Homo sapiens: one gene and its partners. The main gene of each other region encodes a partner of the protein of the gene in region 3 in a complex. Each region holds a gene or a part of one and is shown on either strand. Other genes may lie near its edges. The genes, in order: PRIMPOL, ATRIP, RPA1 and RAD9A. A codon is read from its position in the direction of its gene.

What was found.
Region 1: the proteins of RPA1 (region 3) and PRIMPOL are in contact, whole or in part, in a crystal structure (PDB 5N85), measured with the Homo sapiens proteins. Residues at the interface, in NP_002936.1 of Homo sapiens: Arg31, Pro32, Ile33, Thr34, Thr35, Arg41, Arg43, Leu53, Ser54, Ser55, Met57, Asn85, Leu87, Lys88, Arg91, Arg92, Val93, Tyr118, Asn119, Glu120; in NP_001332824.1 of Homo sapiens: Asp514, Asn515, Gly516, Ile517, Asp518, Asp519, Tyr521, Phe522, Leu523, Glu524, Ala525.
Region 2: the proteins of RPA1 (region 3) and ATRIP are in contact, whole or in part, in a crystal structure (PDB 7XV4), measured with the Homo sapiens proteins. Residues at the interface, in NP_002936.1 of Homo sapiens: Ile33, Thr34, Arg41, Arg43, Ser54, Met57, Thr86, Leu87, Lys88, Asp89, Arg91, Val93; in NP_569055.1 of Homo sapiens: Gly53 (codon at 2,748), Asp54 (codon at 2,745), Phe55 (codon at 2,742), Thr56 (codon at 2,739), Asp58 (codon at 2,733), Asp59 (codon at 2,730), Leu60 (codon at 2,727), Glu62 (codon at 2,721), Leu63 (codon at 2,718), Asp64 (codon at 2,715).
Region 4: the proteins of RPA1 (region 3) and RAD9A are in contact, whole or in part, in a crystal structure (PDB 8JZY), measured with the Homo sapiens proteins. Residues at the interface, in NP_002936.1 of Homo sapiens: Asn29, Arg31, Ile33, Arg41, Arg43, Leu44, Leu45, Ser54, Ser55, Phe56, Met57, Asn85, Leu87, Lys88, Asp89, Arg91, Val93; in NP_004575.1 of Homo sapiens: Asp297, Phe298, Ala299, Asn300, Asp301, Asp302, Ile303, Asp304, Tyr306, Met307, Ile308, Met310.

Annotation. Positions count from the first base shown.
Region 1 is NC_000004.12:184,652,735-184,659,754, reverse strand, and holds part of PRIMPOL (DNA-directed primase/polymerase protein), read right to left. Parts: intron 2,674-7,020; 5' UTR 2,615-2,673; coding exon 2,435-2,614; intron 416-2,434; coding exon 318-415; intron 1-317. UniProt on the Homo sapiens protein: DNA primase and DNA polymerase required to tolerate replication-stalling lesions by bypassing them.
Region 2 is NC_000003.12:48,442,785-48,449,749, reverse strand, and holds the start of ATRIP (ATR-interacting protein), read right to left. Parts: upstream 3,014-6,965; 5' UTR 2,905-3,013; coding exon 2,658-2,904; intron 2,625-2,657; exon of another isoform or gene 2,228-2,624; intron 1-2,227. Other genes in the region: TMA7 (translation machinery-associated protein 7), read right to left, coding at 5,868-5,902. UniProt on the Homo sapiens protein: Required for checkpoint signaling after DNA damage. Required for ATR expression, possibly by stabilizing the protein.
Region 3 is NC_000017.11:1,825,984-1,833,021, reverse strand, and holds the start of RPA1 (replication protein A 70 kDa DNA-binding subunit), read right to left. Parts: upstream 3,018-7,038; 5' UTR 2,929-3,017; coding exon 2,896-2,928; exon of another isoform or gene 2,888-2,895; intron 1-2,887. Other genes in the region: protein-lysine N-methyltransferase SMYD4, read left to right, coding at 5,028-5,161. UniProt on the Homo sapiens protein: As part of the heterotrimeric replication protein A complex (RPA/RP-A), binds and stabilizes single-stranded DNA intermediates that form during DNA replication or upon DNA stress.
Region 4 is NC_000011.10:67,387,231-67,394,990, reverse strand, and holds the start of RAD9A (cell cycle checkpoint control protein RAD9A), read right to left. Parts: upstream 3,006-7,760; 5' UTR 2,947-3,005; coding exon 2,913-2,946; intron 2,831-2,912; coding exon 2,760-2,830; intron 2,750-2,759; exon of another isoform or gene 2,476-2,749; coding exon of another isoform or gene 2,338-2,475; coding exon 2,209-2,337; exon of another isoform or gene 1,502-2,208; coding exon of another isoform or gene 1,496-1,501; coding exon 1,381-1,495; intron 1,301-1,380; coding exon 1,201-1,300; intron 1-1,200. UniProt on the Homo sapiens protein: Component of the 9-1-1 cell-cycle checkpoint response complex that plays a major role in DNA repair. The 9-1-1 complex is recruited to DNA lesion upon damage by the RAD17-replication factor C (RFC) clamp loader complex.

The DNA of each region.
Region 1 (7,020 bases), on a different chromosome or scaffold from region 3:
ATTACTAGGTAAGTAACATAAATATTCCTTTGTGATTAATAGTATAATTTAATACCTGTTTGCAAAAGAGAAATTTCAAAACTCCCTTTGAGTACACGCATATATTCGTGTATGTGCATGATTATTTTCTCCCAGCACCTGGTGAGATACTCAAGCATTGCTATGACAAGAAAACTCCAGAATTCAATTCTAAGAGCAACTAATAGTGTGGTCACGAACTGTGGAAGCCAATTCAGCCTGAACTAATTTCACCAAAATTCCTAGGCAAAGGAAATGGAACTCTAGCTTAATGTGTGGTTCTGCTGCATGCTACCTACCTGGATTTATAGTAAAACCAAAATTCAGCATAGGTTGTCACAAGGTAAATACGTTGTCCATCTCCTACTTTGCATTCCAAAGCAAATACATGAACGTCCTGCATAAAATCAAAAAAGAATTCAGAAAAATTCACAAAATGCAAACCTAAACTCAACTGTAGCTACTGAATGTTCATAAAGAATTTTTCATTCAAGTTTTCAGAAACTGTAATTTGAACATTTGTATTATTAAAAACAAGACAAATAGTCACTAGGTTTATGCCATTCAAAATCTAATTATACCTATTTTTTAATCATTCATACAAAAGGTGAAAACAATTAGAATATGCAGACCAAAGAGAAAAAAGGAGAGAAACCACTCTTAAAAATATTACTTGTATGACTTCCTATGATAGTTTTATTTCTTAGTTTATGAAATTAAACTTATTTTTCAAAACTACTTATTATTATAAATGATTTGGGCTAAAATTGATTAGTAAATTCCCCAGTACATAAAAAAATGTATGTAGGAGCCTTTTTTTTTTTTTTTTGAAACAGAGTCTTGCTCTGTTGCCCAGGCCGGAGTGCAGTGGCGTGATCTCGACTCACTGCAACCTCTGTCTCCCAGGTTTAAGCGATTCTCCTGCCTCAGCCTCCCAAGTAGCTGGGATTACAGGTGCCCACCACCACGCCCGATTAATTTTTTGTATTTTTAGTAGAGACGAGGTTTCACCATGCTGGGCAGGCTGGTCTCGAACTCCTGACCTCAAAGTGATCTGCCTGCCTCAGCCTCCTAAAGTGCTGGGATTACAGGCATGAGCCACCGCACCCAGCCGGAACCATTTTTTTAAAGGTTAATTACTGCGGTAGTTGTTTAAATATAACTGCTCATGCCTCCTGCCATAAGGGTTCTTCTAATAGAGGAATACATCCACAAGTTCTTTTGTTTCCTCTTAGCTAAAGGTAGCTGGTGAGCATATTTTTCTTTTCATGAGTGAAAAATCACAGGACTCAGTTGCTTAACCCTAACAAAAACCTTTTTGAAATAAATTTTATAGACTGGTGATTAGCAAGTCCAACAAGCATACCCCTATCTATATCTTTTTAAAATTCAAGTTCAAATGAATCTGTCAGTATTTTAATTTCTGCTGCTTGAATTAGGTTTACCCAAAATGCCTAAGAAAGGTATTTCTTAAACCATTCTCATGAGATTTGAGTAAGCCTACCCTTACTAGAGAAAGAGAGGTCCTTCTAAAACTTCCAGCACTTGGAGATTTTATACAGCAACAGTGATCAGACTCACAGCACACTTATGCTATCATATAAGCATCTTATCGTTTCTTTCATATTTCTTTACATTCCCCACAGTGCCCCAAAAAAAAAAAAGAATGTGCAATACACATCTGTTGCTTGATTTAGTGATATTTATTTATTTATTTATTTATTTATTTATTTATTTATTTTTGAGATGGAGTTTCGCTCTTGTTGCCCAGGCTGGAGTGCAATGGCGCGATCTCGGCTCACAGCAAACTCCGCCTTCCGGGTTCAAGCCATTCTCCTGCCTCAGCCTTGGGAGTAGCTGGGATTACAGGCATACGCCACCACACCCGGCTAATTTTGTATTTATAGTAGAGACAGGGTTTCTCCATGTTGGTGAGGCTGGTCTCAAACTCCGGACCTCAGGTGATCCACCCGTCTCGGCCTCCCAAAGTGCTGGGATTACAGGCATGAGCCACCTCGCCCGGCCAGTGATTTTTATTTTTCAGCACCATGTTCTTTGAAAGGCTGACACTTCTTTCTCCTACTTGCTTACTGTGTTGAAATAAATATGGTTCCCCTCCCTCTAAGCATAAAGCTTCATTTAAATATCATCACAATTTTTAAAAACTAATTGGTACTAGATGTGTCATTCTTTTTCATTACTAATATAAATTAAATGGTTAATGATTCACAGGAATATTTTTCCTAAATCACATGCCATTAAGATTGCCATTAAATTTTCTTGGTAGAATACATGGCCTGAAATGAAGACAAATAATAGACTTTTTTTTTTAAAGAACTGAAATTATAATGAAGAAGAAGAAGAAAGAAGAGGAAGTGGAAGAGGAGGAAGAAGAAGAGGAGGAGGAGGAAATTACTTCTTTACAGCTTTTAACAAAATTAAAAGCTTGAGCTTGTCGATGAAATAGTCTCCAGATGGAGGGTGGTTCTTCTGGCTTGGACAATCTTGGTCTATACACTGAGGACAACGGTTTCCTCTCATAATGAGATGCTCGTTCTTCAATTTGCTTCAGTTTTGCTTCCCATTTTCTATTCATTGGTTCAGAAGTGTGGAGAGAATAAATCCTATCCCACGTAATATTTCTATCAATTACTACTAAAACAAACAACAAACAAAAAGGCCATTAATTTCTTTGTTTAGAATATATTTTGTTTGATAAAGTTTCAAAACTCACTTCCTGACACTTATTTTCTTGTTTATTCTTTGCATGAAGTTTTACCACAGAATGAGAGCAAGGCTGGTTATCAGAAATTCTTAGATCCTGGTTCTTCATCTAATGGTATTATGACCTTGGACAGGTTAATGAAGCGCCCTGAATCTTAGTTTAATCAACTGAAAAATGGGAATCAATATCATCTTGAGTACTTTATATACTTAGCTTGAAGATAAATGTGGTAAGACATAAGCAATCTCTAAATTACAAAGCCTCATGTAAATATATGTGCTTTTTGTATCACTGTGGTTTTTACTATAACCATTTTATTGTATCACGTGCTATGACCTTGTCCACCCATTCTTGTGCTATTATTTCTCAGTGTAGAATTCATTTCTAGATACCAATGTACAGCTCTTAGTTCCCTTTTCCTCTGTTTCTGTCCATGTCTCCTCTTCTCTCTCAACACAACTTTTAGTTGGGCTAGTTTTGGATGTCTGTAGTAATGGATGATTTTTCTTTCTATATAATACTTCCATGTCAACCACGCCAGAGTAAGGGGGCCAGGCAATAATTTTCCAATTTGGGATTATAATTCATTTACAAAAGAAAAAGAATAGGTTTTTAGAAGAGTGGGAAAACTTTCACTCTAGATTAAAAACAGCCAAATCAGCCACAAACCCCTTGCCATTTTTCCCATCAAGAGATGGCACCTAAACTCACTCTCGTACTGACTCTCAGCTTGGCCATATGACTTGTTTTGGGCCAACATCACATTGACAAAAGTGAAGCAAGCAGAGGTTTAACGAGTGCCTTTGCAGCAGACTTGGTTATCCCAGAGTCCTGCCCTGAGATTGCCATGCCATAACTCTAGCCTCATAGAGGATGAAAGCCCACATGGAAAAGAACCAAGGAATTGCAGCCAACAGCCAGCATAAGCAGTCTGATATGTGAGCTGGGCCATTCCGGACATCCAGCCGTCATCTGAATTCAACGCATTAGTAAGCCTGAGTCCCAGAGAGACCTATCAAACTGCCCAGCCAACCCACAGAGCTATAAGAAAAAAATAAATTTGGTTGTTTTGTCTTTTTTAAGCCAGTAAGTTTGGGGCTGGCTTTGACATAGAAATAGGTAATTAATAGAGTTCCTCTCTTCATTAATATCATCTCTGCCATAATTTACCTATGTGGAAAACAGATATATTGGGGCTTTTTTGAAGTGAAATAATATGTACTAAATCATTTAACAGTGAAGTCCTATTTCTTTGGTAACACATTTGTGCTTATTGAGTTGATAAACATTGTCTTGAATTTTAGCAGAAAACTTTGCAGCAACACAAACTCATTGGCAAATGAGTATTTCCTGGAAGGAAAACCAGAATCTCCCTAAAAGATTAAGAAAGGGGGCCAGGCGCGGTGGCTCCTGCCTGTATTCCCAGCACTTTGGGACGCTGAGGCGGGTGGATCATGAGGTCATGAGTTCGAGACCAGCCTGACCAAGATGGTGAAACCCCGTCTCTACTAAAAATACAAAAATTAGCTGGGCATGGTGGTGGGCACCTATAATCCCAACTACTCGGGAGGCTGAGGCAAGAGAATAGTTTGAACCAGGAGTGGAGGTGCCAGTGAGCCGAGATCGCACCACTGCACTCCAGCCTGGGTGACAGGGCAAGACTCCATCTCAAAAAAAAAAAAAAAAAGATTACGAGAGGGTAGACCAGGCGCCGTGGTTCATGCCTGTAATCCCAGCACTTTGGGAGGCAGAGGAGGGCGGATTACCTGAGGTCAGGAGTTCGAGACCAGCCTGACCAATATGGTGAAACCCCGTCTCTACTAAAAATACAAAAATTAGCCAGGCGTGGTGGCGGGCACCTGTAATCCCAAATACTTGGGAGGCTGAGACAGGAAAATTGCTTGAACCCAGGAGGCAGAGATTGCAGTGAGCTGAAATTATGACACTGCACTCTAGCCTCCTGAGTAGCTGGGACTACTCCATCTCAAAAGAAAAGAAAAAAAAAAGGGATAGTACATCATGACCTTGTTAGAAAAAAAACAAAGGCATATTATCCGCAGATTTCAAATTTGACATCAATCGTAACAGACCTAAGAAAGATATTCTCTCAGAGTTATACCTAATCCACATATAAAGTATATACTAGGAAACAGAAATATAATTCTAAAGGTACTAACATAAATTTCATAACAGGTATGCTTAGGGAAAATATCAATTCACTGGATGGAGGAGATGAAGCAATTTTTTTAAAAACTGCTTCAGCCGGGCGCGGTGGCTCACGCTTGTAATCCCAGCACTTTCGGAGGCCAAGGCAGGCGGATCACAAGGTCAGGAGATCGAGACCATCCTGGCTAACACAGTGAAACCCTGTCTCTACTAAAAATACAAAACAAATTAGCTGGGCGTGGTGGTGGGTGCCTGTAGTCCCAGCTACTCAGGAGGCTGAGGCAGGAGAATGGCGTGAACCCGGGAGGCAGAGCTTGCAGTGAGCCAAGATCGTGCCACTGCACTCTAGCCTGGGCAACGGAGCGAGACTCTGTCTCAAAAAAAAAAAAAAACTGCTTTAACTTGTCAATACAAAGTGATATGGCTCCTTATTGCTAGATTCTGAGTATTCAGTTACTTTGATCTGCTTCACGTGCAGCTAAAAATCTGCTATACTTAGATAAACCTAATTGAGAAACTGACTTTCTATCATGAAGTTTATTAACTTTTAACAAAGTCCATTGATTATTAGTGAAGAAAATAAATACAGAATGCAATCACATCTGAATCTAGCTAGTATCTACCAATAACTGACTACAAATGACTATGTGGATATTCGTACTTCGTGACACTGAAATTTTATCATGAAAAATTGTTTGATTTTGTAAAAGTCTTGGTAGGACCACGGGAGTATGTCATACAGGAACATCATGGAGTCACAATGAAAAAACAGCTTAAGACTCACTGAACTGGGGAAACCATGAGCATCAACAGAAGAAGAAAGAGAAGTTCAGTATATGTCATGCCCCCTTCATATCTGCACAGCTTGAAAATTTTAACAGCTGGGTTGAGCATCAGAAGACAACTGGGGCTTGGTGTAGTCCAGCAGGAGGGTTGAATTACAAAAAGCAAAGGAAATGGAGAACAGTAAGGCATCTGGCATTCTGGTTTGGGACTATCACATTCCTCATCCCTCCCCTCTGGGGGAATATGTCACCATATTAGAAATGCTTTTCATTCCCGGTGGTGAAAGAGTGTTGTCTTTCTTTTACATAATTGTGTATCAAAGCTCCTTTCCACTCAGGGACTGTAACTATTTTTGGTAAGTTTCCAAGTTCCGAAGGAAAACTTTTATTGTATTTTAAAAGATTGGGCTCCGCCCGGTGCAGTGGCTTGCACCTGTAATCCCAGCACTTTGGGAGGCCCAGGCGGGTGGACCACAAGGTCAGGAGTTCGAGACCAGCCTGGCCAACATGGTGAAACCCCATCTCTACTAAAAAACAAAATAAAAGATTGGGCTCAAAGAGTTTCTATTATTTAATTCTTAACATTGCACAGAATGTTTGTTTAACCATGTTTGATTATTTAAGCATGGTTGATACTGATCTTTCAACCAAAGGGGGTCAAGCTAGAAAAAAGGCTATGTTAGTTCTTTTCGAGTAACTATAGTGGGAGAAGAGGCAGCAGGGATGGAAGGGGAGAGATGACGCAGACCTAAGTAGCCCCAGCTTCCCTGCGTTTATGCCCAGCCTTGCCCAGCTGTGACACTTGATGGTCTGGATTCCAGGAGCAGCTGAAGGAGGGGGCACATGCTTCCTATTTACCAGTTTCTGGGGGGACCTGAAGCCAGCCTGGCCATGGTTCTTCCTAGCCTAGTTCTCTCAGTTTCTTTCTTTCTCACCTACCTACCTTCCTTCCTTCCTTCTTCTTTCCCTCCTTCCTTCCCTTCTTTCCTTCCTTCCTTCCCTTCTTCCTTCCTTCCTTCCTCCCTCCCTCTTCTTTCCCTTCTTTCCTTCCTTCCTTCCCTTCTTCCTTCCTTCCTTCCTCCCTCCCTCTTCTTTCCCTTCTTTCCTTCCTTCCTTCCCTTCTTCCTTCCTTCCTTTCTCCCTTCCCTCCTTCCTCCCTCCCTCCCTTCTTTCCCTTCTTTCCTTCCTTCCTCCCTCCTTTTCTTTTTTCTTTTTTTCTCATCACTGGTCAATTCCTATTCCCCAACTCCAAATTCTCCCTCTACCCTGAGATTAGATTCATCAGTATTTTGCATTTTCTGCCAATACTCTAGTTCTATGATTTGG
Region 2 (6,965 bases), on a different chromosome or scaffold from region 3:
TTCACCATGTTAGCCAGGCTGGTCTTGATTTCCTGTCCTCGCGATCCACCCGCCTCAGCCTCCCAAAGTGTTGGGATTACAGGCGTCAGCCACTGTGCCTGGATGCCTGGCTAATTTTAAAATTCTTTGTAGAGATTGGGTCTCCTTATGTTGCCCAGGTTGGTCTTGAACTCCTGGGCTTAAGCAATCCTCCTGCCTTTGCCTCCCAAAGTGCTGGGAAGAATTACTCTTGAGAGCAAAGCAGGGAAAGATCTAGTAAGCAATATAGATGTTTTTCAACCTAAGAACATGGTTCAAACTCATAAATGATCCTTCTTTTTTTTTTTTTTTTTTTTTGAGACAGAGTCTCGCTCTGTTGCCCAGGCTGGAGAGCAGTGGCGTGATCTCGGCTCACTGCAACCTCCACCTCCCAGGTTCAAGCGATTCTTGTGCCTCACCCTCCTAGGTAGCTGGAATTACAGGCGTGTGCTACCACGCCCGGCTAATTTTTATATTTTTAGTAGAGACGGGGTTTCACCATATTGGCCAGCCTGGTCTCAAACTCCTCGCCTCAAGTGATCAGCCCACCTTGGCCTCCCAAAGTGCTGGGATTACAGGCGTGAGCCACCACACCCGGCTGAAACTCATAAATGATCCTTCTAAAACAACAGATCCTATTATTCTTTCCCTATCCTTCATCCAATTCCAAGAGTCTCATCTAAAGCCTGAGGAGATCTCATTGGCCAGAACTCAATGATCTACTTATTATTCAGTAATAGTTACTGACCACATGCAATATGCCAGGCATGTTAGGCTCTACAGGTACAATAGTGAGCAAAATTGATACTTCCTTACACTCACAGAGCTTAAAAGACATTCAACAAATAATCACACAGATAAATGTAAAATTACAACTGTGATTAAGAACTGCAGAAGAGAACAAATATAGGAAAGCCTATAATATGACAGCAATCTGACTTAAGTGGGATGATTGGAACATTTCCCTAGGGAAGACTTGAAGGAGCTGAGAGCTGAAGGACAAGTAGGAATTAACCAGATGAGTGGAAATGAATGAATGAAAAGTATACTCAATGTACAAAGAAAGAACAATGTATAAAGTTCCTGTATTGTAAAGAAGCAGAGAGAATTCAAAGAATGTTAGTGCAGCCAGGACCCAGAGAGTGAGAAAGGGCCAAACCAGGCTGGGCCTTTCAGGCCATGTTAAGGATTCTGGTCTTCACACTAGAAGAAATAAGAAATTATTAAAGGGCTTTCATTAGGGGTGTTCATGGCTGGGTGCGGATGGCTCATACCTGTAATCTCAGCACTTTGGGAGACCAAGGCGGGTGGATCACCTGAGGTCAGCAGTTTGAGACCAGCCTGGCCAACATGGCGAAACCCCGTCTCTACTAAAAATACAAAAATTAGCCAGGCATGGTGGCGGGCACAAGTAATCCCAGCTACTTGGGAGGCTGAGGCTACTCGGGAGGTTGAGGCAAGAGAATCTCTTGAACCTGGGAGGTAGAGGCTGTGGTGAGCCAAGATGGCATCACTGCACTTCAGCCTGGGTGACAGAGTGAGACTCCGTCAAAAAAAAAAAAAAAAAAAAGGGTGTTCACGTATATCTGTGTAAGACACAGCCAGATTTGAGTTTTGAAAAGATCACTCAGAATGTGATGTGAAGCCTCACTTGTAGGGAGTCAAGACTGGAAATGGGAAACCAATTTAGCAGACCATTGTTCAAGAGAGGACTCATGGTAACACAGATCAGGCAGCTGGTAGAAGCAATGTGAATAGGATAGACTCCAGAGAAGGATTAAGAAGGTAAGCTTGACATGCTTTCCAAATAAATTAGATGTAGAGTCAAGGAAAGGGGAAGAGTCGCTTTGTGCCACTGGATGGAGAGTCGTGCTAGTTACTTCCTTGTGGAACATCTGGTCATCATTCTCTGAATGTCTGCTTTGCCGGCACCATGCTAGAAGTGCTGGAGGAGGACTGGGTTTCCAGGAAATGATCGTGTTGAGTTTAAGGTGCCTTGAGACACCCAAGTACAGATGCAAGGTGCACTCAAAACATTTCTCTTTCTGGGAGTCCTCAAGACTTCACTCACTCCTCAACTAGAATGTAAGCTCCATGAAGGACAGTTTTTGTATTTTGTTCATTGTAAGGTCAGCTGCAGTTCCTCACGTTTGGGCACCTAGCACAGTTTACTGGTTGTATAAAAGAATAAATTTATTTCATCTCTTGCCTGTGTCTGGCTCCTCCCATGCTCACACTGCCCAAGGGAGACAGTGGGCTTCATAAGATCTAAAGCCGCTCAAACTTGTCACAAGAATGGGTCCCCATGCATGGGTAGTGATGGTTCTGATGGTGGTGGTAGGTGTGTTCCAAGGATCTCTGCTTAGAACCAAGAACCAAGTGGCCTAAACTTTAGAAAATAACGTAAAATGTCAACTTAGCCTTCTGTGTTTCAAATCGGCTGTTTGACCTGGCTAATGCATTTCCCCCTAAAATCAAAGGACCTTCTGGAAGACAACCGCTGCTTAAATCAGGGTGTTCCCATATTTTAAAAAGGCGAAAAGGCAGTGCTGGCCGCGAGGTTCCGAAGCCACAGCCATCAAGGGGATCTGGCGCGGTTGACAACTCCCTCCGAGCAAAAGGCCGCGAGGAGCACTCACTGGACACGTCCCGAGCCGCGGCCGGACATTGGCTCAGGGCCTGTGACGCGAGGGTGTCAAGCTCCTCCAGGTCGTCGGCAGTGAAGTCCCCATGCGCGCCGAACGGGTCGTCAGGGTCCGGGGCAGCGGCTGCGGAGAAGCCCCGGGCCCGCTTGCTCGGGGGGTGCCCGGTGCCCGGCGGCGGGCCGGGGCGAGGCGCCGGGGGCTCGCTCCGCCTCTTGCTGCCTGGCGCGGAGGTCCCCGCCATGCTTTCCGCTCACCCCAAGTATCCGACAGCGCCGAGCTAGACTTGCCTGCCGCCAGGCCGGAGAACTGGACCAACCGTCCGCGCGCCGCCGCTTGCCTCCGCCGCGAGTGCCCCGCCCCTGGCCCAGGGGCCAATCAGCTGGCAGGCGGAGGGCGCGGAGGAATGACGAACGTCCGAGCGCGCCGCCACACCCGGCCCCGCCCGGTGTTTAGAGGTCCACGGGCGGGATTCGGCAGGTTTGCTGCAAGGACTCAGTGCGGCGCGACCCGTTACCGGAGAGGCGGGCCGGAGGCGCACCAGCTCCGCCGCGCTGGTGGCTTTGCGCTCCCTCCCTGGCATTCCGTGGAGGAGGGCCGCGCAGGAGCAGCCTGCCCTAGCATTCACGCGTGTTGCGTTTGAGTCGAGCCAGGCATCATTCAGGGATGTGGTCTCCGTGACCTCGCTTTCCTTCTGCCGCCAGACCCACCTCCCACAAACCCCTAGGCTTTCTTGAGGAGAGTGGAATTTGTTGGGTGAGGAGTATGAATAGAGCTGTCGTGTGCAGACATCTTCGGGTTTAGTGAATGTTTCACATGTGTACATTTGAGGTAGGCCCAGGGAGGAGGAAAGTCCAAGGAGGAATGATGTTTGGAGCTGTTCTTGTGTGGGAGGGGGTGGGAGCTGCTCAGGCTGTTAACATCCATTCCTCTGAGTGCTGGACTGTTTTTTTTTCCTAAGCTCTGGTTGTATAGAATAGGGCTCAGGAGGTCAAGGAAGTCCCCCTGTAAATGGCACCTGCGCTGTCCTACAAGTTGAGTCAAGTTAGCAGGATAGAGGGGTAGGAGGCTGGCACATAAGACTAACACGAGAATTCTACATTGAAAGGGAGGCCACACAAAGGCCAGGTAAGAGTTACCGGTGGCGAACAGAGGTAAAGCTTCACAAAGGAGCAGCAATTTGAGGTGGGCTTGCGTGCCTGACAGATTTTATTGGGCAGCTGTGGTGTGCAGAAGTTAGCCGCAATAGAGAATTTGGCAATGGAGAGTAACAGGAGCAAGACTCTTTCAGCCTTACCTGCTCAGTGCCAAACTTCACCTGTGAGTGTCCTAGGAATATTTGTGAAAGCATTAAATGAAAAGAGTAAATGAAAAAGAGAGTGCTATCAGGGCCTATAATGTCTAAGGAGTTTAAAATTTTTTGGAGCAACTGGTAGTCTCCGTCAGATAGCTTCCCAAGTGTTGCATGCTTAATTGCTGCAGGACTCTGGTCCTGGAAAGAGACAGGACTGTTCATTTGTTAAAGAGGGATAGGTTCCACCAAGTAACTTGCTTTCAGGAACAGTGTGAATCACTGGTGCTCAGGTTTGTTTTAGCAGCATACGGCTGGGTGCCAGCTAGCAAGGCCCCACAGGGAATGCCTGAAGCCTACTGAAGGGTGCTACTGGCTGTGCAACTTTCTGGAGAGGACCAACACAGGCTTCCCCCTGCCCCCTCTCCCGCGTTAATATCTAGTACATTAATCATGAAAGTTTTCAATATTCTAAAACCTAGTTTTGATTTAGCAGTCTCATAATGGTTCCAGAGCGCTCTTCGACAATATTCTCAGAGAAAGCTGAGCATTATTAACATAATTGTATTAAGGGCCTGGGAGGGAAATCCAAATACTTGTGCTTCTGAATTAATTTTTTTTTTTTAAATACAGGGTCTTGTTCTGTCTCCCAGGCTGGAGTGCAGTGGTGTGATCTTGGCTCACTGCAGCCTCGAACTCCTGGGCTCAAGTGATCCTCCCACCTCAGCCTCCCAAATGGCTGGGACTACAGAAGTGCACCACCACACCCAGCTAAGCATTTTAAAACATATTCAGCACACATTATGGATGGTCTCTGTCTTTGCATTTATTGAGGGGCAAGCGGTAGGTATGCCTGGGACTCCAGTCCTGGGCAGCAGGAGGTAGAGTGAGCCCCCATTTTGCCTCACCCCCAACCCCTTGCCTGGCACTGGCACCCCCTCCATCCACCAGCAAGTGGGCTGGGGCTTCCCGCAGCTGCTGCCCTGGACCTGTTTGGTGCGCATGGGGACTTCACTGCTAGCAACTTGAAGGATCATGTAATTTGCCCTGCCCTGCCTCTTCCACAGTAGAGAAGTTCCTTGACAACAGGAACTGTTCCGTTACATACCCCAGTGCCTGCATATAGCAGACGCCTTACATGAACAGATGAACAAGTCTCATCAAAATATACGGCAATTTGGATGTGACAACATAAAGATGGGTTTTCTTTTAAAAGCACAAATTCTGGTCAGGCACAGTGGCTCATGCCTGTAATCCCAGCACTTTGGGAGGCTGAAGCAGGCAGATCACTTGAGGTCAGGAGTTTGAGACCAGCCTGGCCAACATGGTGAAACCCCTCTCTACTAAAAATACAAAAAATTAGCTAGGCATGGTGGCGGGTGCCTGTAACCACAGCTACTTGGGAGGCCAAAGCAGGAGAATAGTTTGAACCCGGGAGGTGGAGGTTGCATTGAGCAGAGATCATGCCACTGCACTCCAGCCTGGGTGAGAGTGAGACTCCACCCCCTCCCCCACCAAAAAAAAGTGCAAATTCTTCCACTAAACTCATGTAAGGTATTCTGTCAGGTATACAACCACACAAGAACGCCATCCTTTCAAATGAGTTGGTTTAATTTCAGGTGATACAAAGTTTAGGGTAGAACAAGGACCAAAGAACAGACTCTGGCAAGATTCTGAGCTGGTTTTACTTTAAATTCACAGTTATGGTAGGAACGACTTAGTGAAAACAACTAAAGAGATGATGAGCCACTGTAAGATTTTTCTTTTTTTACAAAAGTTTATTCTTAAATGTACAACAGCTCCAAGACAACACTTAATTCCAGCTATACGTGGCAAAAGATGTTATGGCAGGGAATAGAGAGGTTTAAATACAGATGAAATAAAGGGTCACCATCTCCTCAGGCACAAGGAACAGCTTACTTTTTGCCAGATTTCTTAATTCCACCTGTGGCTGCAAAAGAAAAATAGTCACAATTAGGGAAAAATATAGTTCTTACGGTAGAAGCCCCACGGGCCTGCTGTGGACCTTAGTAAAGCCTGGCTTTTGTATTGGGCATTCACTTTAACACAAGCATGGATAGCAGCTTCACTGATACTGTCTGTTCTAGGTAAAGGTAAAATGAGGATGAGATGGAGTACAAGCAGTGGCTGGCTGTGCACTGGTCTAGATCTACACTTCTGTATACTTCACAGATTGGCTTATTTAATCCTCATGCCATATCAACCCATTTTACAGAAAAAGAAGTCCTTTTTTTTTTTTTTTCTGAGATGGAATCTTGCTCTGTCGCCCAGGCTGCAGTGCAGTGGCACGATCTCAGCTCACTGCAACCTCTGCCTCCCAGGTTGAAGCAATTCTCCTGTCTCAGCCTTCCGAGCAGCTGGGACCACAAGCCCTGGCTAATTTTTGTATTTTTAGTGGAGACGGGGCTCACCATATTGGTCAGGCTGGTCTCGAACTCCTGACCTCAGGTGATCTGCCTGCCTCAGATTCCCAAAATGATGGGATTACAGGTGTGAGCCACCGACCCCAGCATTTTTTTTTTTTTTTTTTTTTTTTGGAGATGGAGTCTTGCTTTGTCACCTAGGCTGGACTGCGGTGGTGCAATTTTGGCTCACTGCAGCCTCCGCCTCCCAGGTTCAAGTGATTCTTCATGCATGAGCCTTCCGAGTAGCTGGGACTAAAGGCGCATGCCACCATACCCGGCTAATTTTTGTATTTTTAGTAGAGATGGGGTTTGACCATGTTGGCCAGGCAGGTCTCGAACTCCAGACCTCAAGTGGTCCACCCACCTCAGCCTCCCAAAGTGCTGGGATTACAGTCTTGAGCCACCATGCCCAGCCAAAAAAGAAGTCTTATTGTTAGGTGTTGTTCAAGTATGTGACAAGCCAGGATCCCAACCTGAGTCATCTGACTTCAAAGTCCACATTCTTAACTGCCATGTTACACTACCTTCCATATTATGATCCTGGCACCTGGTATACTCTGTCAATTTACAAATGACCATATATGTGGA
Region 3 (7,038 bases):
CCGGGAGGCAGAGGTTGCAGTGAGCCGAGAATGTGCCACTGCACTCCAGCATGGGCAACAGAGCAAGACTCTGTCTCAAAACAAACAAACAAACAAACACAATAATTTTAAAATTTTAAAAAGAAACTGATAAATCAACAAACATAAAACTGCAATTATTAATAGGTAACATAAACACTGAGCATTTACTATGTATCAGTGTGCTAAGCACTTTAAATTTAATAACTCACTCCATCCTCCTACTTACCTTATGCAATAGATATCATTGCTCTCATTTTACAGAAAAGAAACAGTTTAGTATCTTGCCTCAAGTCATGCATCTAATAAGTGAATGGGGTCGTGCGCGGTGGCTCACGCCTGTAATCCCAGCACTCTGGGAGGCCGAAGCAGGTGGATTGCTTGAGGTCAGGAGTTCGAGACCAGCCTGGCCAACATGGTGAAACCCCATCTCTACTAAAAATACAAAAATTAGCCGGGCATCATGGCAGTCTCCTGTATTCTCAGCTACCTGGGAGGCTGAGGGAGGAGAATTGCTTGAACCCAGGAGGCGGAGGTTGCAGTGAGTCAAGATCGTGCCACTGCACTCCAGCCTGGGCAACAGAGCAAGACTCCATCTCAAAAAGAAAAAAAATAAATAATTCAATAAGTGAATGAACAGGAATTGGGGTCTCAAAGGGATTTAGCCTAGTAAGGGAAGTCACAAATGAGCTGAGATACGAAGATAGTGTTTGCCAGTGTGGGGAAGAGTGAAGAACCACCCAGGCAGTGGGCAGAGGGAAAAAAATGTTCAGGGCCGGGTGCGGTGGCTCACTTCTGTAATCCCAGCACTTTGGGAGGCCGAGGAGGGTGGATCACCTAAGGTTGGGAGTTCAAGACCAGCCTGGGCAACATGGTGAAACCCCCGTGTCTACTAAAAATACAAAAAATTACGCAGGTGTGGTGGTACATGCCTGTAATCCCAGCTACTCTGGAGGCAGAGGCACGAGAACTGCCTGAACCCAGAAGGCAGAGGTTGCAGTGAGCCGAGATTGCGCCACCGCACTCCAGCCTGGGGCGGTAGTGGGGGGGTATGGGGAGAAAGAGTGAGACTCTGCCTCAAAAAAAAAAAAAAAAAAAAAAAAAAGGCCGGGCACAGTGGCTCACGCCTGTAACCCCAACACTTTGGGAGGCCGAGGCGGGCGAATCACAAGGTCAGGAGATCGAGACCATCCTGGCTAACACGGTGAAACCCCGTCTCTACTAAAAAATACAAAAAATTAGCCGGGCGTGGTGGCGGGTACCTGTAGTCCCAGCTATTCGGGAGGCTGAGACAGGAGAATGGCGTGAACCCAGGAGGCAGAGCTTGCAGTGAGCCGAGATCGCGCCACTGCCCTCCAGCCTGGGCAACAGAGCAAGATTCCAGCTCAAAAAAAAAAAAAAAAGTTCAAAGGCCCCATGGAAGAAGGTAGGAGTATGGAATATACCAGAAATCTAAATTTAAAAAAAAATGTGGGGGTGACTGGAGAGGTAGGCTGAGAGTATGCTGTGGATGGGAATGGTGGCAGGAACGTATGCTGAGTGGAAGTCAGCAGCTCAGGCAAAAAAAAAGACGGTGCCAGTATGGATGGAGAGAAGCCAGTGGGCTTGATAGATCTACGCAGAGGCAAAATACACTTCACTTCGTGAGGGACTGGATGCCCAGGTAATGGACAATATAGGAGGAATGATTTCTCAATTTCTGGTTAGCACTGAACTGAATAGATAATGGTGCCATCCGTGGAGATAGGGATCAAGAGGCCCAGACTTAGAAAGATAAAGAATTTGCTTTGGGATACGTATACTGAACTTAAAACCCTCTGAAGCATGGAATAAGCAGACAGATGACGGAAGTTTGTCTTTTAGAGTAAAGGTGGCTCTGTACAAAGAAATTTGTGAGCAACTGACATATATTAATAGATGGCAATGGAATTGCCTTGGGGCCAGGCGCGGTGGTTCATGCCTGTAATTCCAGCATTTTGGGAGGCCGAGGCGGGCGGATAACTTGAGGTCTGGTGTTCGAGATCAGCCTGGCCAACATGATGAAACCCAGTCTCTAATAAAAACACAAAAAGTAGCCGAGTGTGGTGGCGCACACATGTAGTCCCAGCTACTCGGGAGGCTGAGACAGGAGACTCACTTGCACCCGGGAGACGGAGGTTGCAGTGAGCCGAGATCGCGCCTCTGCACTCCAGCCTGGGCGACAGTGAGTGTCGCCCAGGCTGGAGAAAAAAAAAGAAATTGCCTCGGGAGTCAAGAGGGCCTAGAGGGAGCCTTGATTCAACAAAAATTTACAAAGAGGGACTTACAAATAAGACGGGGATAGACCTGCCAAGCTGAGCCACTAAAAACCAAGGAAGAGGGTGTGACCTGAAGCAAGCAGGGCTTAAACGCAAACGCTGCTGAGAACTCAGGTAAGCTGAAAACGGAAAAGGGCTGGATTTAGCAACTTGGAGGCCACTGGTACCTTCAGCCAGGGTTTTCTACAGCGATCAAAGGGATGACTGGAGTGGGTTAAAGAGTTGATGAAAGGCGAGGAAAGGAAGTGGCTGAAACCAGACAAGAAGTTTGGCTGTGGGTGGGGAAAGGAGAAGAGACAGAAAGTGTCCGCAGGTGGAAGATGCAGAGAAAGGCAAGCGTTTATTTAGTTTGTTCTTACGTAGGAAAAATGTGAGCATGTTTTAAAGACGATCGAAAGAATGCTTTGAGGAGGGGGCGATGACACTAGAGGGACGCCCGGCGGGTCCCCACCGCCCCCCGCCATCTCCTCCCCTCGCGTTCATCCCCCGTCGCCCCGGGCTCCCCTCCCCCTCTCTACTCCGCGAGGCTCGGGGCCGCAGCCACCCCGGACCGCCGGCCCAGCCCCCGGCACCTCCTCACCGCAATGGCCCCCTCGCTCAGTTGGCCGACCATGGCTCCACCGCCAAGACTTCCCCGCGGACCCCGCAACAGCTCCAGCTTCCCCACCCGGGTCCCGCGCGCTGCGCAGTTATTGGCCCGAGAAGTTGCGCGCACCGCTCCCGCCCCCGACGTGCGCGCGGCTCAGGGGCGGGCCCGGGCGCTACGCAGCCGCCGCATTGGCCGAGGCGCGGCCCACGTGACCCACCCATGGTCCCAAGCGAGGCCTGGCGCGGGACGCCGGACGCGGTGCGGGGCGGAGCGGGGCGCCAAGGGGCGCGCCAGGAGCTGCGCGGGCGCTGGGAGGGAGACCAGGGCGCAGTTCCGGGCGCGTCTGAGCGGTTCTCGAGGCGTTCTCGCCTCGGTCTCTGGCGAGTGCACGGGTTGGTATCCCAGAGGAGGTTAAAGCTGTTCCTTGAGACCTCCGCTGCTAAATAGAGTCGCAGTAGTGACCCGATTCGTCCAGCAACGCGGGGCTGACTTCCCGCCTCCAAGCCCTGAGCTTGGCACCGTGGCGGTGGGGGGTGGGGGTGGGGGGTCTCCGAAAGGGAATCAGACCCGGCCCCCGTCCTTAGAGAAGAGGACAGTGTGTGGGGGCACTTTATGCCGTCAGTAACCCCACCTCCAGGTAGACGTGGTACAGGCCCCAAGGGTGTTGGAATCACAGCTGGGAAATCAGGGACGCCGTCCCGGAGGAGGTGCCATTTGAGCCGAGTCGAAGAACGTGTGGGAATTTTCCAGGTGGACTCCATAAGCCAGGGTAGGGTTGGTCCGGAAAGCATGAGTAGCCTATGCCAAAACATTGGAGAGTTGAAATAGCCTGGCAAGCCGGGGATAGCAATGAGTTGTTCAGTATGCAAGGGTGCATGCAGAGGAGTAAGTGACACCTGAGAATTAGAAAGTCAGACAAGGGTCAAGTAAGGATGGTTTTGTCCTGGGCTTCCTGGTATGCTTGGAGTAGCGTTGATGAATTTAAGGGCAGAGCACTGACTTCTGTCTCAGTGTTGGAGGCTGGATTGAAAGTGGGGAGTGGTGCCAATGGCATGGACATTAATTATAACACTCTAGGAAGAATGCCAGACGAGATGGTGAGGACTTAATCAGAACGCTGAACTATGTAAGAGAGGGAAATACCTTGTTAAATGAATAGTTGCTGGGGTGGGTGAGAAAGAAAAATCTGGGATGTGTCTCAGAGAAACTAGAGAGGGATCAGGCCGGGCGCGGTGGCTCACGCCTGTAATCCCAGCGCTTTGGGAGGCCAAGGCTGGCGGATCATCTGAGGTCAGGAGTTCGAGACCAGCCTGGCCAACATGGTGAAACCCCGTCTCTACTAAAAATACAAAAATTAGCCGGGCGTAGTTGCGCGCATCTGTAATCCCAGCTACTCGGAGGCTGAGGCAGGAGAATTGCTTGAACCTGGGAGGCGGAGGGTGCAGTGAGCCGAGATGGTGCCACTGCACTCCAGCCTGGGTGACAGAGCAAGACTCTGCCTCACAAAAAAAAAAAAAAGAGGATCTAAGAGCACAGATGGTAGCTATCTAGTCTGCTTCGTCTTTGTATAACCATCACCTGCATGGTGCCTGTGACAAAGTAGTCTTTCAGTAAATATTTCTGAATGGAAGGATGTTGAGTGAATTGCTGTGAGAAAATATAGATCCTTCCTTAGCATATAAACTAGAGGAAAAGACCACAAGAATTGATTTTATTGTTTCAGGCTTCCTTGAATGAAATCTTGATTTTCCTTTTTTTTTTTTTTCCGAGACAGAGTCTTGCTCTGTCACCCAGGCTGGAGTGCAATGGCGTGATCTCAGCTCACTGCAACCTCCGCCTCCCCAGTTCACGCAGTTCTCTTGCCTCAGCCTCCCGAGTAGCTGGGACTACAAGTGTGCGCCACCACACCTGGCTAATTTTTTTGTAGTTTTAGTAGAGACGGGGTTTCACTGTGTTAGCCAGGATGGTCTCCATCTCCTGACCTCGTGATCCACCTACCTCGGCTTCCCAAAGTGCTGGGATTACAGGTGTGAGCCACCGTACCTGGCTGAACTCTTGATTTTCTAAAATTGTGCATTTGTAAGATTCCTATTTTCTTACTCATTTTATAGATCAAAAGCAGCATGGATCTGCCTGTGGATGAATGGAAATCATATCTGCTTCAAAAGTGGGCTTCACTCCCGACGTCTGTTCAGGTCACAATTTCTACAGCAGAGACCTTGAGGGATATCTTTCTTCACTCCTCTTCACTTCTTCAGTAAGTAAATCAAGCTTTAACAAGGGAATTGTGAGCCAAAAAATGTTCTATTTTGTCATTTGCTCTGAAGTAATGTGTCTTTTTCTTAAATAAAGATTGAGTCTTGCTTGTTTCCCAGGCTGGTCTCAAATTTCTGGGCTCAAGCAATCCTCCCACCTTGGCCTCCCAAGGTGCTGGGAGTACAGGCGTGAGCCACCATGTCTGGCCTGGTAACATCTCTTTTTGATGGAAAATGCCTGAAGTACTTTTCCTGGTTCGTTTCTATCCCAGCGTGTCCTGTGAACTAATTCACTTCTGTCATCCTGCAGGATTAGCCAGATCTTTCCTCAGGAAAGCTCTCCCTGAGCCTCAGCTGGGCCATCTTCACTCTTTGTACATTTACAATGCTGTGTGATTTTCCTTTATATATGTGTGTGCTCTTTTGACTAATGCCTGCCTTTGCCGCTAGATTGTGAACTTCATGAGGGAAGGGACCGTGTTTGTATTTGTTTTTCTTTTTTTTTTTTTCTTTTTTTCTTTTTCTTGAGACTGTCTCGCTCTGTCACCCAGGCTAGAGTGCAGTGGCGCAATCTCAGCCCACTGCCTCCGCCTCCCGGGTTCAGGCAATTCTCGTATCTCAGCTTCCCGAGTATTTGGGATTACAGTCGCACACCACCATGCTCGGCTAATTTATTTATTTATTTATTTTTATTTTATTTTATTTTTTTTGACACAGGGTCTCACTCTGTCACCCAGTCTGGAGTGCAGTGGCACAATCTCAGCTCACTGCAATCTCCACCTCCTGGGTTCAAGCGATTCTCATGCCTCAGCGTCCCAAATAGCTAGGATTACAGGCGTACACCATCATGCCCAGCTCACATTTTTGTATTTTTAGTAGAGACAGGGTTTCACCATGTTGGCCAGGCTGGTCTTGAACTCCTGCCCTCAAATGATCCGCCCGCCTCAGCCTCCCAAAGTGCTGGGATTACAGGCATGAGCCACTGTGCCCGGCCTGTTTGTCTTTCTATAGACAAAAATAGTGCAGTGTCAAAAAATAAGTGGTTAGTAAACATTAATTGAATGACAACTTGGTAATGTATATAAAGTTCTTAGTTTAGTTACTGGCTGTTATTAGTGCTTAAAATGACGTATAAAGCAGAACCTTATATATTTGCAGATCCAGAAACACACACCTTTCACGTTCAAGGTTGATGTCTTTATCTTTGTGCCAGGCACATAGTAGGCGCTCGTATATTAATTGAATGAAATAATGAGTTCAGTTTTGAGCCTTGCCAGTTCAGATACTCGGTACAGTTAGGGTTATACTTTTTTTGTTAGTCTTCATTTCTTTTCTTTTCTTTTCTTTTTTTTTTTTTTTTTTTTTTTTTTTGGACAGAGTTTTGCTCTTGTTGCCCAGGCTGGAGTGCAGTGGCACAGTCTTGGCTCACTGCAACCTCCGCCTCCCAAGTTCAAGTGATTCTCCTGCCTCAGCCTCCCGAGTAGCTGGGATTGCAGGCGCATTCCACCATACCCGGCTAATTTTGTATTTTTAATAGAGATGGAGTTTCGCCATGTTGGGCAGGCTGGTCTCCAACTCCTGGCCTCAGGTGATCCGCCCGCCTTGGCCTCCCAAAGTGCTGGGATTGCAGGCATGAGCCACTGCGCCCGGCCCCCCAGTGCATTTTTATTTCTCGTGTGTATTGCCTATTTGTGTCCCTTGCCCATTTTCTAGCAGGTTGTCTTTATTCTCTTGTTCATTTGTAGGAGATCTTCATAAATCTAGCTGTATAGTTCTTTGCTATGTAAGTTACTATTTGTTGTATAAATTATTCCCAATCTGTTTATCTTTTTTACCCTATTTACAATGTAAATGTTTTACATTTACATTGTATATAAAT
Region 4 (7,760 bases), on a different chromosome or scaffold from region 3:
TCCAGCCTGGGTGACAGAGCGAGACTCTATCTCAAAACAAAACGAGAGAAACAATTGCTCATTTTTAAAAAAAGAGACTGAGTGTGGTGGCTGACGCCTGTAATCCCAGTACTTTGGGAGGCTGAGACGGGCAGATCACCTGAGGTCGGGAGTTCAAGACCAGCCTGACCAACATGGAGAAACCCTGTCTCTACTAAAAATACAAAAAATTAGCCGGGCATGGTGGCGCATGCCTGTAATCCCAGCTACTCGGGAGGCTGAGGCAGGAGAATCACTTTTATCGGGAGGCGGAGGTTGTGGTGAGCCGAGATCGTGCCATTGCCTGGGCAACAAGAGCGAAACTCTGTCTCAAAAAAAAAAAAAAAAGACACCACCCTAAATGCAGACCAAGGAATTGGCCCCCGTCTCTCACTACCCAAAAGAGCTCTGAGCAGTGCTGGCTCAAAAGAACCTGGGGAAACAGATGTCAGGACCCAAAGGGATCTTCAGTCACCCTGAGAAATGAGCAGGACCTTGGGCCACTTGAATGCAAGCAGTGACCAGCATGGAGCAGGGGGAGAGCCCACTCCTCTCTGAGCTGGTCCTCGCCAGGGACGTTTGCTTCAACTGGAGTCCCCATTTCCCTGGCCCCAGACAGCCCCCAGTGCTCGGACTGCCCAGAACAGCTCCACCCCATAGCTGATTATTCAGCCTCCCTCCAGCCTCCTGCCCTGGCCTTGGGGACTCCTCGATCCTGGGCAGTCAGGAAAAGAGGCTGCCGTTGAATGGGGAACACCTCTGGAAGGATGCCCAGGCCGGAGAAGGGGTCTGAGCCTCTGAGCCACAGGTTATGGGCAGACCTTCAAGGTTACTCAAGCCAGACAAGAGATTTGGTGGCAGGCCAGAAATGTGCTCCCTAGAGGAGGAGTTGGAATGGGTTTGAGCAGCCAGAAAGTCAAGTCAGACCTTTGGGATGGAGAATGCAGGCTCCTAACAGTAAGGAGAATGGAGCAAGGAGGCGCCTGCCCCTCCTCCATGCCACCGTCTGCCTTTAAAGAGCCAGGTAAGGACCTGAGCACATAGCGGGCCATGGGATGTCTTTGAGGTTCACAGAAACTCTGTAGGGAAAATGAAAGAGGTACCTTCTAAAATCAACCCCTTGGGGCCCCAAAGAAGGAAGAGAGAGACCCGGGGCTGAGCTGAGGGCAGGGGTGTGCTCACCGTGCTGGGGCGCGGAGCATGTGGGGGCACGAGGCTGGGTCGAAGACGGCCTGCAGGGACTCACAGTCCTGGAAGGACAGGTTGTGAGTCTTCCGCACCCCTGGATGGGCGATAGGGTCTCAGTGGGCCTCGCCGACCTCCCTGCTGAGGCACCCCTTGGCTGGCCGGCTGCCCACTCACCGAACTTGCAATGCAGCTGGACCACCAGGCGGCTGCTCCGGCCATTCAGGGAGATGCAGCATTTTTCCACCGTCTTCTCCAGCATCGCCAGTGAGCGGAAGACAGACAGGAAAGACTGCATGGGATAAGACACCTCAGCCTAGCATCACATCTCTGCAACAAGCTCTCCTGTCCCATGCAGGCCCACACCCATCATGGGCCCAGCATGTAACTCTGGGAAAAGGGCTCCCACGTCACCTCGGGCACTGGCATCCTTCTAGGCCTCATTCATGCTCTTCCTTATGCTTGGAATGCCTTGAAAGACCTGCTTACCTTTTTTTTTTTTTTTTTTGAGATGGAGTCTCGCTCTGTCACCCAGGCTGGAGTGCAGTGGTGCGATCTCAGCTCACTGCAACCTCCACCTCCCGGATTCAAGCAATTCTCCTGCCTCAGCCTCCCGAGTAGCTGGGATTACAGGCGCGTGCCACCACGCCCAGCTAATTTTTGTATTTTTAGTAGAGACGGGGTTTCGCCATGTTGGCCAGGCTGGTCTCGAACTCCTGACCTCGTGATCCGCCTGCCTCGGCCTCCCAAAGTGCTGGGATTACAGGCGTGAGCCACCGCGCCCGGCCAAAAGACGTGCTTACCTTTCTTGACGAACTTGAGCGTCACCACCCTCTCAGGTCCCCGCTGTGATGCTTTTACCATGGCCCTCCCTGTGTTTTGCATGGATTGGGCTTGCACGTGTCTCTCTCCCCACTTAGCATCTACTGAGTACCCCAGGGCAGAGGCACAGCTGGTGGAGATTCCTGGGGTGGAGTAGTGCCACTGCTGAGGGAAGGGCCTCACCTTCATCAGGATCTTACAGCGCAGCAGGTCCTGACCAGGGGTGGCTGCCTGGTATTGCTGGAAGAAGAGCGGGGCAAAGAGAAAGCAGGCATAGGCAGAGCGGGAGGAGTTCACCGTCCGGAGGGAGAGCTGGGCCACGAAGAGCAGGGAGAGGGACGTGGTCAGGGGGCAGCCACAGACCCAGCCCTCTGGCTGCTTCTGCTCACACACTTGCCCTATCGTCCTCCCGCTCCGCCACCACCTGCTGAAAAACCCTCCTTTCCCCATGGAAGCCTTCAGAGTCGGCCCCGGCGCTGCTGCCGCAGAGGAGGGGTCGCACACCCAGGCCTTCCCCGAGTTTCTCTAAGTGCACGTCACCCCCTGGGAGCTCGCAGGACAGCTTTCCTCAATTCACACACCGGCCTGGGAAGATGACAGCCGCCAGACTAAGAAACTGAAACTTTGCCGACAAATCTGCCAGCGGTCATCCCGCCTAGTGGGGGCGAGACTCTAGTCCGGGTTACCCGCTCCCGGCTGGAGTCCCACCCGCCCCCCACACCCTAGCCCCTCACCCCGTCCTCCAAGGGTTCCAGGTAGAGCTCGTCCCCGATGCGGGACAGGGAGTGGACGGCCTTGCCGAGCACTGCGGGGAGAAGAGCGGAAGGGGGTTAGGCTGGCGGCTCCGCGGCTGCTGCACCGCCGCTGCCAGGCCGACCTGCACTCACCCTTCACGTTGCCGCCCGTGACCAGGCACTTCATGCTGCCCCAGCGCTCCGCCAGCGGCCAACACTGCCCAGCTCTCCGCGACCTCCGGGTCCGGGGTCCCTTCCCGCGCACCGCCCCTGCCGGCCCCGCCCCCGCCTCCCCATTGGTCCACGTGCAGGCGCCTCCGTCACGTGAGAAAAACGCTCACAGGCTCTGCCGTCACGTGACGGCGCACGTTGTCCGGGGTGTCACGTGACCGGGGAGGCCCGCGGCGCCCGCCAGCCAGCTGCTCCTGGCTCCCCCGGCACGCCTCGGCCTTCCGTGCCCCTGGAGATCGGGGCGTTCCGCGGGCCGCGCACCGGATTGCGAAGGTCAGAGAGGACGCAGCTGTGGGGCGCGAGGTCCCTGTGCAGTGGACCGAGTGCTGGACTCGGAGTCGGAGTGTGGGGGCGAGCTCTCTGGGGTCACCCACTTAGTAGAGTTCCCGGGCGTCTGCCGGGGGATACAGGGTGCAAGCAAGACCATCGCACCCACTCTGGGCCTGAGACTCGGACTCCAGCAGCAATCCCCAACTCTAGAAAGAAGTCAAAGCAGCTTGCTTGCAGCAGCCGGGAGTGGGAGGTGGCTGCTCCTTCCGGCTTCGAGGATCCTTTAAGGAAAAACGGCAGTTTCTCCAGGCAGAAAGGGGTAGAACGGTGCCCCTGGCAGAGGGAAGAACAAGAGTAAATGCTCAGCGGTGTGGGCTCCGCCCCCTGGAGAGGGGAGTAGGTCTGTGAGTCTCAGAGAGGCGTAGGGGCCGCCAGATGATGAGGGGCACCGCTGGGACGCTCTGGAAACGTTTTACGAGGGTAGATCGTGGTTATGTGCCTTTTTTTGTTTGTTTGTTTTTTGAGACATATTCTTGCTCTGTCACCCAGGCTGGAGTGCAGTGGCGCGAACACGGCTCACTGCCGCCTGGAACTCCTGGGCTCAAGGGATCCTCCCATCTCAGTCTCCTGAGTATCTGGGACCACAGGCACACCCACCACGCCCGGCCCTTTTTTTTTTTTTTTTTTTTTGGGTAGAGACGGAGTCTTGCCATGTTGCCCAGGCCGGTCTCAACTGTGGGGTTCAAGCTGTCTTTCCGCCTTGGCCTCTCAAAGTGGAGTGAGCTACTGCACCGGCCTGTTTTTTGTTTTTTGTGTGTGTGTGTGGGGTTTTTTTGTTTGTTTGTTTTGAGATAGAGCCTCGCTCTGTCGCCCAGGCTGGAGTACAGTGGCACGATCACGCCTCCCAGGTTCAAGCGATTCTCCTGCTTCAGCCTCCCAAGTAGCTGGGATTACAGGCGCCTGCCACAACGCCTGGCTAATTTTTGTACTTTTAGTAGAGACGGGTTTCACCATGTTGGCCAGGCTGGTCTCGAACTCCTGACCTCAAGTGATCCGCCCGCCTCGGTCTCCCAAAGTGCTGGGATTACAGGCATGGGCCACCGCGCCCAGCCCCGGGTCTGTATTTTTAAAAGACCCCAGACTGGCCGGGTACGGTGGCTTACGCCTGTAATCCTACCACTTTGGGAGGCCGAGGCGGGCGGATCACGAGGTCAAGAGATCCAGACCATTCTGGCCAACATGGTGAAACCCCGTCTCTACTAAAAGTACAAAAAGTAGCCGGGCATGTTGTCACGCGCCTGTAGTCCCAGCTACTCTGGAGGCTGAGGCAGGAGAATTGCTTGAACCCGGAGGCGGAGGTTGCAGTGAGCCGAGATCGCGCCACTGCACTCTAGCCTGGCAACAGAGTGAGACTCCATCTCAAAAAAAAAAACCAGACTGTGTGCCAGGTGGGGATGCATCAGCTGGAAGGTATTCCCCTTCCCCTGGGCTTCCGGGTCCACGTGTGTAAAATGTAAGGGAGTCCTGGAGAAACTCACTGACCCCTACTCTCCCCACAGTACCAAGGCTCTGGTAGTTCTTGGAAGGGCCCAGGGCATCCCTGTATTCCTGCAGGGCCTGCCCGTGCCTTGCCCCTCAGGTCCTGTGGTAGTGCAGAAGATATATTTATCTCTGCCACCCTTGCTCTCCAGACCCACTTTCAAATGAGTTGAATTGATACATAATAATTGTACACATTTGGATACATGCATACACTTTGTTTCTCCCTCTCCTTCCCTTCTGCTCCCCTCGTCACCAGCCCTTGCCCCTTCCGTGGAGCCTTGGGGGAGGAGGTTACTCTTCCCTTCCCCTTCCCGGGGGATCCATGGAAATAGTGCCCCTGTCCCTGGGCATCCGGCTCAGTATGCTGGAGTCATCCTTGACCTCATGCTCGCCCTCACCCCTACACAGTCTTTCAGTTAAGTCCTGACCACTCTGCTTCCCAAACAGGTGGCAACTTAACAGGTGGCAACTTTGCCCTCCTCTTCCATCTCCAAGGCCTAGGCCACCATCCTCTCACCTGGATGACTGTAACAGCTCTCAGTGGTCTCCTGCCTCCACCCTGCCCCCTCCAGGCCACTCTCCATACAGCAGCAAAGTGACCCTCCTAAAATGTCCATTGTGTCATGCCTCTCCCGTGTTTGCACACTCCAGTGGTTGCCATAAAATCCAAACTCTGCCCTGAACCTGCAGGAGCCGCCGCCACCCATTTCTCCACCTGTGGCCTCCCCTTGATCACCTGCACAGCCATGCCAACCCTGTGGGCTCCCTGAACCCTCCACTTCCTTTTCCACCTGGGGATTTTAGCACATCCTTAGCTGTCCCCACCACTTGGCATCGTCTTACCCCTTCTAACGTGGCGGTGCTTCTCTTCCTCCAGGCTCAGTGCCGTCTTTTCTGCCCCCACCAGCATCCCATTACACTCTAGCTAGACCCTGTTTTAGCCACAGCACTTATCACGTTATTTCATGCGTGTGTTTGCCTGTTTAACATCTGTCTTCCTCACTAGTGTGTCTGCCTCACAAGGGCAGGAACCATGTCTGGTTTTTGGTTTTTTGTTTTTTCTGAAGACAGAGTCTTGCTCTGTCGCCCAGGCTGGAGGGCAGTGGCGCGATCTCGGCTCACTGTAACCTCCGCCTCTGGGGTTCAAGCAATTCTTGTGCCTCAGCCTCCCAAGTACCTGGGAATACAGGTGTGTGCCACCACGCCCGGCTAATTCTTGTATTTTTATTAGAGATGGGGTTTTGCCATGTTGGCCAGGCTGGTCTCAAACTCCTGACCTCAACTGATCTGCCCGTCTCAGCCTTCCAAAGTGCTGGGATTACAGGCGTGAGCCACTGCACCCGGCCTTGGCTTTGTTTTGTTTGTTCTGTTTTGTTTTGTTTGTTAAGATGGGTTCTTGCTTTGTCACCCAGGCTGGAGTGTAGTGGCACGATCATAGATCACTGCAGCCTCAACTTCCCAGGCTCAAGCGATCCTTCCACCTCAACCTCCCGAGTAACTAGGGCTACTGGCGCATGCCACTACAGCCAGCTAATTTTTTAAATGTTTGTTAGAGACAAGGTCTCCTTCTGTTGCCCAGGCTGGAGTTGAACTCCTGGGCTCAGGCGATCCTCCTGCCTTAGCCTCCCAAAGTGCTAGGATTACAGGCGTGAGCCACCACACCCAGCATCCATGTCTGTTTTGTTTGTTGCTGTATGTACCTCACACAGGGTCTGGCACTCAGTAAATAATGAATAAATAGGTGTTACATTTAAAAATGTGTAAACCAGCCGGGCGCGGCGGCTCATGCTTAATCCCAGCACTGTGGGAGACCAAGGCTGGTGGATCACTTGAGCCCAGGAGGTGGAGATTGCAGTGAGCTGAGATAGCGCCACTGCACTGCAGCCTGGGTAAGAGAGCCAGACCCTTTCTCAAAAAAAAAAAAAAAAAAAAAAAGTAGGCCGAGCGCTATGGCTCACGCCTGTAATCCCAGCACTTTGGGAGGCCGGGGCAAGTGGATCACCTGAGGCCAGGAGTTTAAGACCAGCCTGGCCGACATGGTGAAACCCCATCTCTACTAATAATACAAAAATTAGCCAGGCATGGTGGCACGTGCCTGTAATCCCAGCTACTCAGGAGGCTGAGGCAGGAGAATCGCTAGAACCTGGGAGGTGGAGGTTGCAGTGAGCCAAGATCGCGCCACTGCACTCCAGCCTGGGCAACAGAGTGAGATTCTGTCTCAAAAAATGAATGAATGAATAAATATCTGTAAACCATTCCTGTTGACAAAGGGCATGGAAAAATAAGCAAACAAACAAATAAATAAATCAGCGTGAGCCAAATGCAGCTGAGATGTCTCTAAGTCACTCTTAGCACAGTGCTGAGAGAAACATCCAACTTCCAGCCCTCCACCCACAGTCCCATCTGTCCCTGCTTGACAGTTGTCCCCATGCTCTCAGCCTCATCCTGCGCTCTGGACCCCTCCCCCACCACGTGTAAACCAGGACAGCCTTCCCACCTCTGCCTCATACTCATTACCTGAGCAGCCGCCTGGAATAAGGGTAGATGCCGAAGCTCCGTGAAGGCAAGGGAGGTGGAGGCTGTGAATCTTCACACAGTCCTGTTTCTGCCCCTGACACCTAATGGGGTTATGGGGTTCTATGACCTTGAGGACCCTAGGCAGAAGAGAAGGGACACATAAGCTTTTTTTCATATGTTTCATATCTGTCTTCTCCACTAGTGTGTCTACCTCACAAGGCCAGGAACCATGTCTGCCTTTTATATCAGCCAGGGGCAGGTGTGAGCCACTGCCCCCAGCTGACATACACTCTTTCGACTCGTATTGAGTAGTTTTCAGTCACCCTCCCACCCCCTTGCCAAAAGTCAGAACTCGTTGGAACTTTCTGAAGGGCTTAGAACAGCAAGAAGCCTAGAGCGGGAAGTCGGGAGCTGTGGTAGGATACGTCCCTGCCCCCGTGT